2 separate regions of the Homo sapiens genome follow, and region 1 is linked to region 2. Evidence: fine-mapped expression QTL. A gene starts in region 2. The other region holds a variant in brackets. All regions are shown on one strand. Distances are from middle to middle. Region 1 overlaps SACM1L (SAC1 like phosphatidylinositide phosphatase). Region 2 holds the start of SLC6A20 (solute carrier family 6 member 20).

What was found.
Region 1: its variant is fine-mapped to the expression of SLC6A20 in transverse colon (GTEx, PIP 0.96).

The regions. Positions count from the first base shown.
Region 1 is chr3:45,693,725-45,699,103 of GRCh38, reverse strand. The region is part of intron 1 of SACM1L (SAC1 like phosphatidylinositide phosphatase); the gene reads right to left. Among named protein-coding and RNA genes, the nearest start is that of SACM1L, 7.0 kb to the right of the region's middle. RefSeq lists an enhancer at 4,820-4,959. The variant A/G (reference allele first, on the strand shown) is at 2,883.
Region 2 is chr3:45,793,717-45,799,095 of GRCh38, reverse strand. SLC6A20 (solute carrier family 6 member 20) reads left to right here and starts at 2,560. Exons shown (of 11, transcript NM_020208.4): 1 at 2,560-2,797. The coding sequence starts at 2,677. LOC107986082 (a long non-coding RNA gene) reads right to left here and starts at 3,197. Exons shown (of 3, transcript XR_001740680.2): 1 at 3,053-3,197; 2 at 2,082-2,163.

The sequences.
Region 1 (5,379 bases), 100 kb after region 2:
GAAATAAAAATAAGATTTAAAAACTGTATTACAGGCCAGGCGCAGAGGCTCATGCAAAATCCCAGCACTTTGGGAGGCCGAGGCGGGTGGATCACAAGGTCAGGAGATCGAGACCATCCTGGCCAACATGGTGAAACCCGTCTCTACTAAAATACAAACAAAAAAATTAGCTGGGTGCGGTGGCACGTGCCTGTAGTCCCAGCTACTCGGGAGGCTGAGACAGGGGAATCGCTTGCTTGAACCCAGGAGGTGGAGGTTGCAGTGAGCTGAGATCACGCCACTGCACTCTAGGCTGGTGACAGAGCAAGACTCCGTGAAGTTAGGAGTTCAGTCAAGACCAGCCTGGCCAACATGGTGAAACCCTATCTCTACTAAAAATACAAAAATTAGCCAGGCATGGTGGCAGGCGCCTGTAATCCCAGCTACTCAGGAGGCTGAGGCAGGAGAATCGCTTGAACCTGGGAGGCGGAGGTTGCAGTGAGCAGAGATTGCGCCATCGCACTCCAGCCTGGGGCACAAGAGCGAGACTTTGTCTCAAAAAAAAAAGTATTATAACAAAGTATACAAATAAGAGTAATTATGGATCAAGGTAGAGATGTCTCGCTCAAAAGTCCTGAGGCCTTTGCTTGATCTTCTCTCTCTGAGAGATGCTGTTGGAATCTAAATTGCTGATGCTGCCATCAGGCTATTCTGATAATGTCACTGAAAGTGGTATCTCTAGGCTTAAGAATTGGAGCAATGAAAATGTGAACAGTGACTGCCAGGGAATCAACATTTCTAGGGATGCTCATTAGAAGTAATGACTCACAATTCTGTTAACCATAACAGCAGGTATCATCCTAACTCACGGCACCTACATATATGCCCTTACTGTTCTCTTCCTCTCATTTCCCACCACTTTTGTATTGGTCTTAATACTGATCTGAAGCATAATTGTTTTATGTAATAAATTTTATTCTATGTTTTATGCTTCCTGGGCTTCATTTCAAAAGCCAGTGAAATTAACTTTAACTCTCTAGCATTTAAACCGTCAAAAACAATTAAGTAAACATTCAGTGGTATAATTTTTCCTGGTGTGTATTGTTTTATTGCTATTTTTGTGTTTAAATCTTTACCAAACAAGCTATCATATTACTTATTTTATGAAATGGATTTCGGAAGACAAGATTCGATCCAAGAAGATTATTTGGTCATTATCTATACTGTTGATAACAGATCTCTAAGGTTCAAAGTAATACTGTATACTAAAAAGGGTTCTGGTCCTATATAAACTATCTGGTGAGGTGATTAGCCTCCAATTCACTATTAACTCTAACTGAACAAGAATCCTACCAAATATCTGTCAAGACAAGGGGATCCCATACCTACCCAGAGTTCTGGTTCCCATTAATAAGACACATACTATGGAAGATATATCAAAATAGCATAATACTTGTATAATAATTGCTCCTATTTTGACTACCTTCATTCAGTTCGTCATTTTGCTTTTAAGGATTACTGTCCAAGCATGGCATAAAAAAGAAAAAGTGGTTGGATACAGTGCTCATGCCTGTAATCCTAGCACTTTGGGAGGCTGAGGCAGGAGGACTGCTTGAGCCCAGGAGTTTGAGACCAGCCTGGGCAACATGGCAAAACCCCGTTTCTACAAAAAATGCAAAAATTAGCCAGGTGTGGTGGTATGCACCTGTGGCCTCAGCTATTCAGGAGGCTGAGGTCGGAGGATCACTTCAACCTGGGAGGCAGAGGCTGCTCTGAGCCAAGATCGCACCACTACACTCCAGCCTGGGCAACAGAGCAAGAGCCTGTCTTAAAAAAAAAAAAAAAAAAAAAAAAAGGAAAAGAAAAGAAAAACAAAGCAGGAGGATCTTGAGGCCAGGAGTTTGAGACCAGCCTGGTCAACACAGCGAGATCTCATCTCTACAAAAAATGTTGAAATAAAAAAAAAAGAAAGAATCAACACTTAGGTTGCTTCCTCCTTTTTGACTGTTGTGAATAATGCTGCTATGAACAGGGGTATACAAATCCCTCTTTGAGACCTTACTTTTAATTATTTTGAGTATCCCAGAAGTGGAACTGGGACTAAAAGCTAAATGCAACAAAGGCAGTTCTGGTATTACACTTAATACAAATGCATTTAATCTTATAGTCACCTGGGATTCAACAGCTCTTAAGAGTGTTTTTTAAAAAATTAGTCTTGTTAAATTTTAAGAAAAGCAATATCTTTAATTATAATATTAACATCAAATATTTTTATTTTCTTTCAGTGTTGGCATTGCGATTTTCTAGTGTCTGAAAACATTTATCTCTCATGTAACATTCACGTCTTATTTCAGACAACTGATCTCTTTAAAATCCTGTCAAATCAATGAGTAAAACTGGCCCACTACAAAAACATTACTACTTACCAACCTCATACCCATTAAAATGGCTATTATCTAGAAGGAAAAAAAAAACAAACCCAGGATAGAAAATAACGAGTGTTGGCTAGGATGCGGAGACACTGGAATCCTGGTGCTTTGTGGGTGGGAATGTAAAACGGTGCAGCCACTATGGGAAAACAGTATGGTGGCCCATTAAAAATTAAAAATAGAATTCCCATATGACCCAACAATTCCACTTCCGGGTATATACTCAAAATAACTGAAAGTAGGGTTTCAAAAAGGTATTTGTATACTCACATTCATACTGGCATTACTCACAATAGCCAAAAAGGTGGAAGCCACCTATGTGTCTATTAACAAATGAACAAACGAAATGTGGTACATACATATAATGGAATATTATTCAGCCTTAGAAAGGAAATTCTGGGCCAGGCACAGTGGCTCAGGCCTGGAATCCCAACACTCAGGGAGGACGAGGCAGGCGGATCACGAGGTCAGGAG[A/G]TGGAGACCATCCTGGCAAATGCAGTGAAACCTTGTCTCTACTAAAAATACAAAACAGTAGCTGGGCGTGGTGGCAGGCACCTGAAATCCCAGCTACTTAGGAGGCTAAGGCAGGAGAATTGCTTGAACCCAGGAGGCAGAGGTTGCAGTGGGCCGAGATCGCACCACTGTACTCCAGCATAGGCAACAGAGCGAGACTCCATCTCAAAAAAAAAAAAAAAAAAGGAAATTCTGACACATGCTACACAATGGATGAACCTTAAGGACATTATGCTAAGTGAAATAAACCAGTCATAAAAGGACAAATACTGCCACTTCATGAGGCATCTAGAGAAGTCAAATTTATAGAGACAGAAAGTAGAACGGTGGTTGCCAGGGGCTGGGAGGATACAGAAATGGGGAGTTGTTTAATGGGTACAGAGTTTATTTTTGCAAGATGAAAACGGTTCTGGTGATGGATGGTGATAACGGTTGTACAACATGAATGTGCTTATTGCCCCTGAACTGTATACTTAAAAATGGTTGAGATGGTAAATTTAATGTTTTATTTTACCACAATTTTTAAAAATAATGAAACCACTATTTTGCATAGGAGCCACAGTGATATGTCATAAAACTGTAGCAAGAACATATTCCCTCAAAAATCTTACGTAAAGAATTTGGCTGGGTGCAGTGGCTCATGCCTGTAATCCCAACACTTTGGGAGGCCGAGGCAGGTGGATCACTTGAGGTCAGGAGATCAAGACCAGCCTGGCCAACATGGTGAAACTCTGTCTCTACTAACAATACAAAAATTAGCCGGGCCTGGTGGTGCATGCCTGTAGTCCCAGCTACAAGGGAGGCTGAGGCACAAGAATCACTTGAACCTGGGAGGTGGTGGTTGTGGTGAGCCGAGACTGCGCCACTGCACTCCAGCCTGGGCAACAGAGTGAGACCCCATCTCAAAAAAAAAAAAGAATTAAATCAAGGTCTTAATGATCAAATTTAATACATCTCTGGTTGAAAAGACAGAGGCACAACACTTTACTAGGTTTGGTGAGCAAAAAGAAAACAACTTAGTAAAGAAGGATCCCCTGCACATACTACACTCATAGGCAGAAGGTGCTCCTACCTCCCCCATTCATCCTCCCTTTGGGTATCTCCTCACTGAGCCCTCCCTGGTTGCCTCTCCTATAGCTCAAGTTCATCACAGACTCCCCAGGGGCACAACCCAATTCCAAACCAGTTGGTGTTTCTAGAAAGACTCATTCTAATGCTATCCTCTTTCTCAAAACTCTGTGTTCCCACCTATATCCTATTCCCTGAATGCCCTAAAACCCATTCTCTCAACCAGACTTCTTCACAGGACTAGGTCCAAATTCCACCTAATCTGAAGCTCTAATCCACAGCACAATCTACCAGAGCCCCATATCTTCCAAAGAATTCTCTTCTACCAGCATGTTCTGGTCCTAACTCAGCTATGTATGCCCAGCCCTAAAATATTTCAGAGTGCATAAAAACTACCAGGATAGCTAGTTAAACTTGCAGATTTCCACCGCTCATCCCCAGAGATTTTCACTCAGTAGGCCTAATGTGGGGCCCTGGAATACGCACTTAAAACAAGCATACCAAGTCATTTGATGTAGCCTAGCACTAACCTAGGCTAGCCACGTGAGCCTAGGTAAGCCTGAACTAGCCTGAACTCCCAGCCAACTAATGCTTTGGATACAAACCCCATATTGTCTGTGCTAAAACTCATGAGAATAATCTGAGCTGCCCTACACCCTTCCCTCCACCGGGAGACTTCTGTGAATAATATGAATGTTCATTATATTGAACAGATTATATGTGTCTGTATCACAAGGTAGCTTAGGTTACATCTGTTTTCAAGGTTGGATCATATCTGCCCTGACTGATGACCTCACAGTTATGAGACTCTTTTAAAAATGGCAATTTCCTGAGGAAACAGTACTCTTCAGAGGCATGCTGCAGCCTGATGCAGTAACTAAAGGATTCCCTGCCTTACACCTAGTTTCAACTGACCTTTTAAAAGAAAAAGAAAAAAAAAGAAGAAAAAATGCTTTAAATGTATCCAATAATTTTGCACCTCTAACTTTCCACTGAACCTTTTAGAAAGTTATTATGAGCTTGAGGTCTGAGGGGCCTAAGAAGTGCCCAAACCACATTTGATGTCATTTCCCTGCAAAGGAAATGTGACACCTACGCCGAACTGCCAAGGTATTTTAGCTTATATACAGGGATAGATAAGCTTCTTAAAAATTACATTTCCAGTCTAATTATTTTGCAATTTCAAATTTATCACTGTCTGACATTATCCATGCCTATACAAATGGCTTAAAAAGAAAAATGGAGCCTAACAGGATATTTAGAACTGCCTGGAAGTTTAAAAAGTATGAATTTTAAATTCTGAGCAAATCAATATTCTGTTTTCCACATTAAACATATGGAAATTAATATGGACATGTCAACTATATTTGGTTGTAAGTGACTCATTTCA
Region 2 (5,379 bases):
GAAATTGGACTTTGTTAAAGTTAAAAATATCTCTTCATTAGAAGACACCACTGACAGAATAAAAGGCAACACAGACTGAGAAAAGCAATTTGTAATACACTAAACTGGCATAGGACCCAAATCCAGAATACATAAAGAACTACAAATCGGTAGGAAAAAATCAGACAACCCAATTAAAAACTGACAAAAAATTTGAACAGGCACTTCATGAAAAAAGATACCTAGATGGCCCAATTAGCCTATGGAATGGTATGCAGCCTTACTGGTCATGAGGGAAGTTAAAATAAGGCACAATGGGCCAGGCGTGGTGGCTCACGCCTGTAATCCCAGTACTTTGGGAGGCTGAGGCGGGCAGATCACAAGGTCAGGAGATTGAGACCATCCTGGCTAACACGGTGAAACCCCGTCTCTAATAAAAATACAAAAACAAAATTAGCTGGGCATAGTGATGGGTGCCTGTAGTCCCAGCTACTCGGGAGGCTGAGGCAGGAGAATGGCGCGAACCCCAGAGGTGGCACTTGCAGTGAGCCGAGATCGCGCCACTGTGCTCCAGCCTGGGCGACACAGTGAGACGCCGTCTCAAAAAAAAAAAAAAAGGCACAATGAACTATCACTATACACCTACAAGACTGGGCAGACCTTTAGAAATAGAATGACAAGTGTTAGGATGCAAAGCAAAAGCAACTGAAACCCAAAGGGAGTGTCAGCTTGTACTACCACACTCTGGAAAACAGTCTGACAATATCTGCTAAAGCCAAACACACCTATCCTAAGGCCAAGAAGTTCCCAGCAGTGAGTGCATTCATCTACGGAAGAACGTGCACTAGAATGTGCATTGCAGCCCTATTCATGACAGCCCCAAACTGGAGACAACACAGACATCTGTCAGTAGTAGACTGGAGCATACTCACACCACCGACAAGTATACTGCAGTGAGAGAGAATGACCCACAGCTACACAACACACTAGAACATGAATGAACCCCACAAACAACGGAAAGCAAATGAAGCCAGGCACAGAAAAAGTACATCCCATTTAATTCCATTTTCATCAAGGTCAAAACTAACCCATGGGGTTAGACACCAGGATGGTAGGTTCCTTTGGGGAGGAGGCAATGGGTAGGAAAAAACATTTATCTAGAATCTGAAGTTTAAAAAAATTAAAGTAGTTTCTCCTGCTGTGCTGCCTTTTTTTTCTGCTTTGCTTTTTCGAGGTAGGAAGTTCCAGGACAGGTAATATGTCTGAGGAAGCCTCCACCTCCCTCACCCTACTCACCCTTCTCCTCTGGGACCAGACAGGCAGGAACTCCAGGGAAAGCCCAACAAGGAGCTGTCCTAGAGCACTGATTTCATTTTGGCTTCAAGTAAGATTTTCACTAGCAACTCTGCTTTTCATCTCTTTTAAATTTTATTATTATTATTTAGCATTTTCTTATCTGTTACAATGTATTAGGCACTGTTCAAAGCGTGGCATTAGTATTAATATGTTACCCATTCATTCATTCAGCCTGCTGGAGACTTGGTAATGGCCTCTTTATTGAGAACTTACTCTGTGCCAGGTAGTAAGCTAAGTTCCCAATTAATCCTCACATGAGCTCTTCCTTGCCAGGCAGGAGAGAGGGGAAGATATCTGTTAGCATTACAGAGGAGTACACAGAGACTCAGAGAAGTCAAGTGCCTTGTCCAAGGTCACACAGCTAAGTCAGTAGCAGAGTTGGTATACAAACCCAGATTCCACATTACTGCAAAGCACCAAGCTCTGTCTTATCTAGTGACCACCCTCAAGCAAATCACGTTGTAAGACTGGCAGAAATACGAGGTTTCTTAGTTCCCTACCCTGGCCTAATGAATCAAAATTTCTGGCCCCTAGGCTGGCCTGAGCAGTAGAGTCCCCCACAGCAGTTCAAAACCTGATTCCGTCCCCGGACCCAGTAGGCACGCAGGGCCAAGCTGTTGGGTGGACGGAGGGGACGGGACTGCCGGGAAGGTCCCTCACTTCTTTCTGGCCCCTGGCAAATGTTATGTTCTCTCCTCTGAGAAGCCCTCCCTAACCATCCCTGGCCACCCCCCGCAACTGCTTACCCCTTTACTTTGCCTTAGGTGTCTTCCTCGCGTCTCTCAGTCTTATACGTGGGCTAGGTTGAACCATATGACATTGTCCTTTCTATAAATTAAAAAATGGTTGAAAATGGGGCATTTCATGCAGTCCAATTCAAGTGTTTCCCTCTACCAGAATGTCAGCTCCAAGACGGAGCTGGGAAGTGGTTCACAGCCGTGTCCCCAGACAACGCCTGGCACACAGTAGGCGCTCGATAAATGACAGGTGAGTGGCCGAGGGAAGGCGCCCACTTCGAGGAGTTCCGCAGCCTGAAGAAAGGCCCCGCCGAGCCGGAGGACCCCAGGGGACTCCGCCCTGTCCTCTGCAATCTCGGGTGCCTTCCCGGCCGCGACGATCGGGCGGGGTGGGGCTCGCCGTCATCCATTTACCAGCCTCGCCTCTCGGACGGGCGCGCCGTTAATGAGATTAGCAATTTAAAAACCAGCTAGCTGCGTCGGCGGCGGAGGCGCGGGGCCACCCCCAAGCCGAGCCGGGGTGGGACGGCGCGCCTGGCGACCGCGCACTGAGACTGCCGTGCCGGACCCCCGAGCCGGAGCCGAGCGCGCCGAGGCCGGGGCCATGGAGAAAGCGCGGCCGCTGTGGGCCAACTCGCTACAGTTCGTGTTCGCCTGCATCTCGTACGCCGTGGGCCTGGGCAACGTGTGGCGATTCCCGTACCTGTGCCAGATGTACGGCGGAGGTGAGTGCCCACCGCGCCCCGGCCCCAGCCCAACTCTGTGCGCGTCCCCGCCGTGTGTGCGAGCCGGGGTTAGACCCAAGTTACAGAACGGCACACTGAGGCCGGGAAAGCGAGCGTGATTTGTCCGAAGTTACAGACCCGGGAGTGTTCCCAGGACACCTCGTTCCGGAGCCGGAGCTCTCTCCCAAGCCGCCCTCCCAAGCCCTCGGGAACCCCTCGCCCCATCCCGGGGGCGGCCAAGCCCCCAACCCTCACCCTTGTTGGCCAGGCTGCGGCTCTGAGAGCGCAGGGGACGCGGTCTCCTTCTTCGAGAGAAGTGTCAATGGTCTGACGTCTTAGTGAGTAAACCTTACGTTTAGGTGTAAAAAGTGAGTAGGAAATTGTCTTATTCAACAGAAACTCGTTATACAACTTTCAGATCCGAAACTTAAATCAACGGTTTGAAACTCAGGTTAAGAGAATCTTGAGCCATTTCTTTAAATTTTTTATAAGGAGATTGGTTTGAGTTTGGAACGACAGAAAGCAGGAAATGCAAATCATTCTGTTTTGTTTTGTTTTTCTTAAATAAATGTTTCCTCCGAAGCATCATGCACGCTCCGGGGACAGCCAGCCAGCCACGCGCTCTTACCGCACTCCCCTAGCGTTGCGGAAAGCTGGGAACACCTTCTACACATGTCTATAACCTCGTGAAGCCCAAGTACCTTTTTGGAAGGCAATGTGGCAAGAGGGATTTAAGTCTCAGCATCTAAAACACTTTTTTTCTCGGTTGTCTCGTTTCTAGAATTGTATCTAAAGGAAATTGTCAGAGTTCTGACAGAGGTAGAAGGATGGTCACCATCATTTAATAAGAGCAAAACATTGGCAACTTCCTAAGCCCTCAAATAAAGGGGATTGGTTCAGTAAATTATAGAGCATCCATTCAAGGTTGCTCTTCGCAGCCTTTAAGGCGGCATTTTCAAAAAAAAAATTGTATTTTCTCGTATCCTGTATTAAGTGGAGGGAGGAGAAATCAGATTCAAAGCTATATAAAATGGATTTGACATTTTAAAACAATTACTTAAAAATATGCAGAGAAAAGAATGGGGAAAAGACATCAAATTGTTAACAAAATTTCTGGGTGATTTTTGTTTACCTTGTCGTGTGTGTGTGTTTTTGTGTGTGTATGTGTGTGTTTGTGTATTAGGACTTCTATAATTAGCATGTTTTTTTCACCATAAAAGATCATGGAAGATGTTAGACCAAAGTATTTACGAAAATGAACCCATTTGAGAAGACCAAGAGCTAAACACTGCTCCCTCCTCCCCTTACCCCAAATCAACAAAAGGTTAATTCATAGAGTTTTTAAAACAGTGCATTCTTAATTTCCTGATTCCTTTTTAAAATTTGAAGTGCATAAATACACCATAATGATGTGAAGGGCATATGTTGCCATATGCTCTAACAGCATTACCATGTGCTCTAACAGCTCTATAACTGACTCTTAAAAAGAATTATTTGTCAGAATGAGATTTCCACATCATTCTGTGCTCAGTAGACCTACCCATGATACCTTTATCCTGGGTACATGTTTCCCAGTCATCAGTCCAGGTGAGCCTCACTGTCACATGACTACTTAATTCCTTGTTTATAATACCACCATCACCTGAATAGTCTGCAGAGGGATGCATGTGGGGCTGATAGTTCTGGAGTTGAATATGTATCAAGGGGTTGCTAGGGAAACCTCAAGACCCTCAGGTTCCAAGAAAAAGAAACAAGAAGTAATCCTGTGCCTGGTGCAGAGGATGCTTCGGCTGGATGGGTGGATAGATAGATGAGTGGAAGCCGGACGGAGCATGGATTGGTGGCTGGGTGTATGCATGGATTAGTGGGTGCACAGACAAAAGGAGGGTGTGGGTCTGGTGGATGGCACCCTGTCAGCCACATGTCTACAGAATAAAGACCGAACAGTCCACTTGGCACCGTAGGCACTTGACCACCTAACTTGACCACTTGTCCAATATTTCCACCTCATTTCCTGCCACACAGCTTCAAACCTCCTCCTGCCTTCCAAACACTTCCATGAGCACCTCCTTCTGTGCCTCAACCCTTCACACAAGATATTTCCTCCACCTGAGAGGCTGTTGTTGCTGGGAGAACTCCCACCATTCCCTCCAGGTGGGACCAAATATTGCTTTCTCTCCGTTGTGCTCTCTGACTCTCCTCACTACTTCACAGGCCACATAAGCACTTGGTCAGAAGAACTGCACATTGTTCTTCAGTTTCTCTGTCTCCGCCCGGCCCAACCTCTGTGATGTGATGGAGTCACAGGAGCCATCCAATAAATATTTGTTGAGTGAATGAGCAAGGTATTAGGAAAAGCCACAGAATAAATGACGCTAGAGGATGCTAGAGGCTTTCCCAAGCCTTTCACTGCACAGTAAAGTCACCTTTAAGAAGTGATTTGTGTTGCCCCAAACCCAGGCAGTTTACAACCCATCCCTTACCGGAAGGTAAAAATCAGCCACATTATGAAAGGCTGCAGAGGGGTGTATAACTTCCTTGTAAGCAGAGCTGCAAATACCCCCAGCAAACAAAGAATTTGT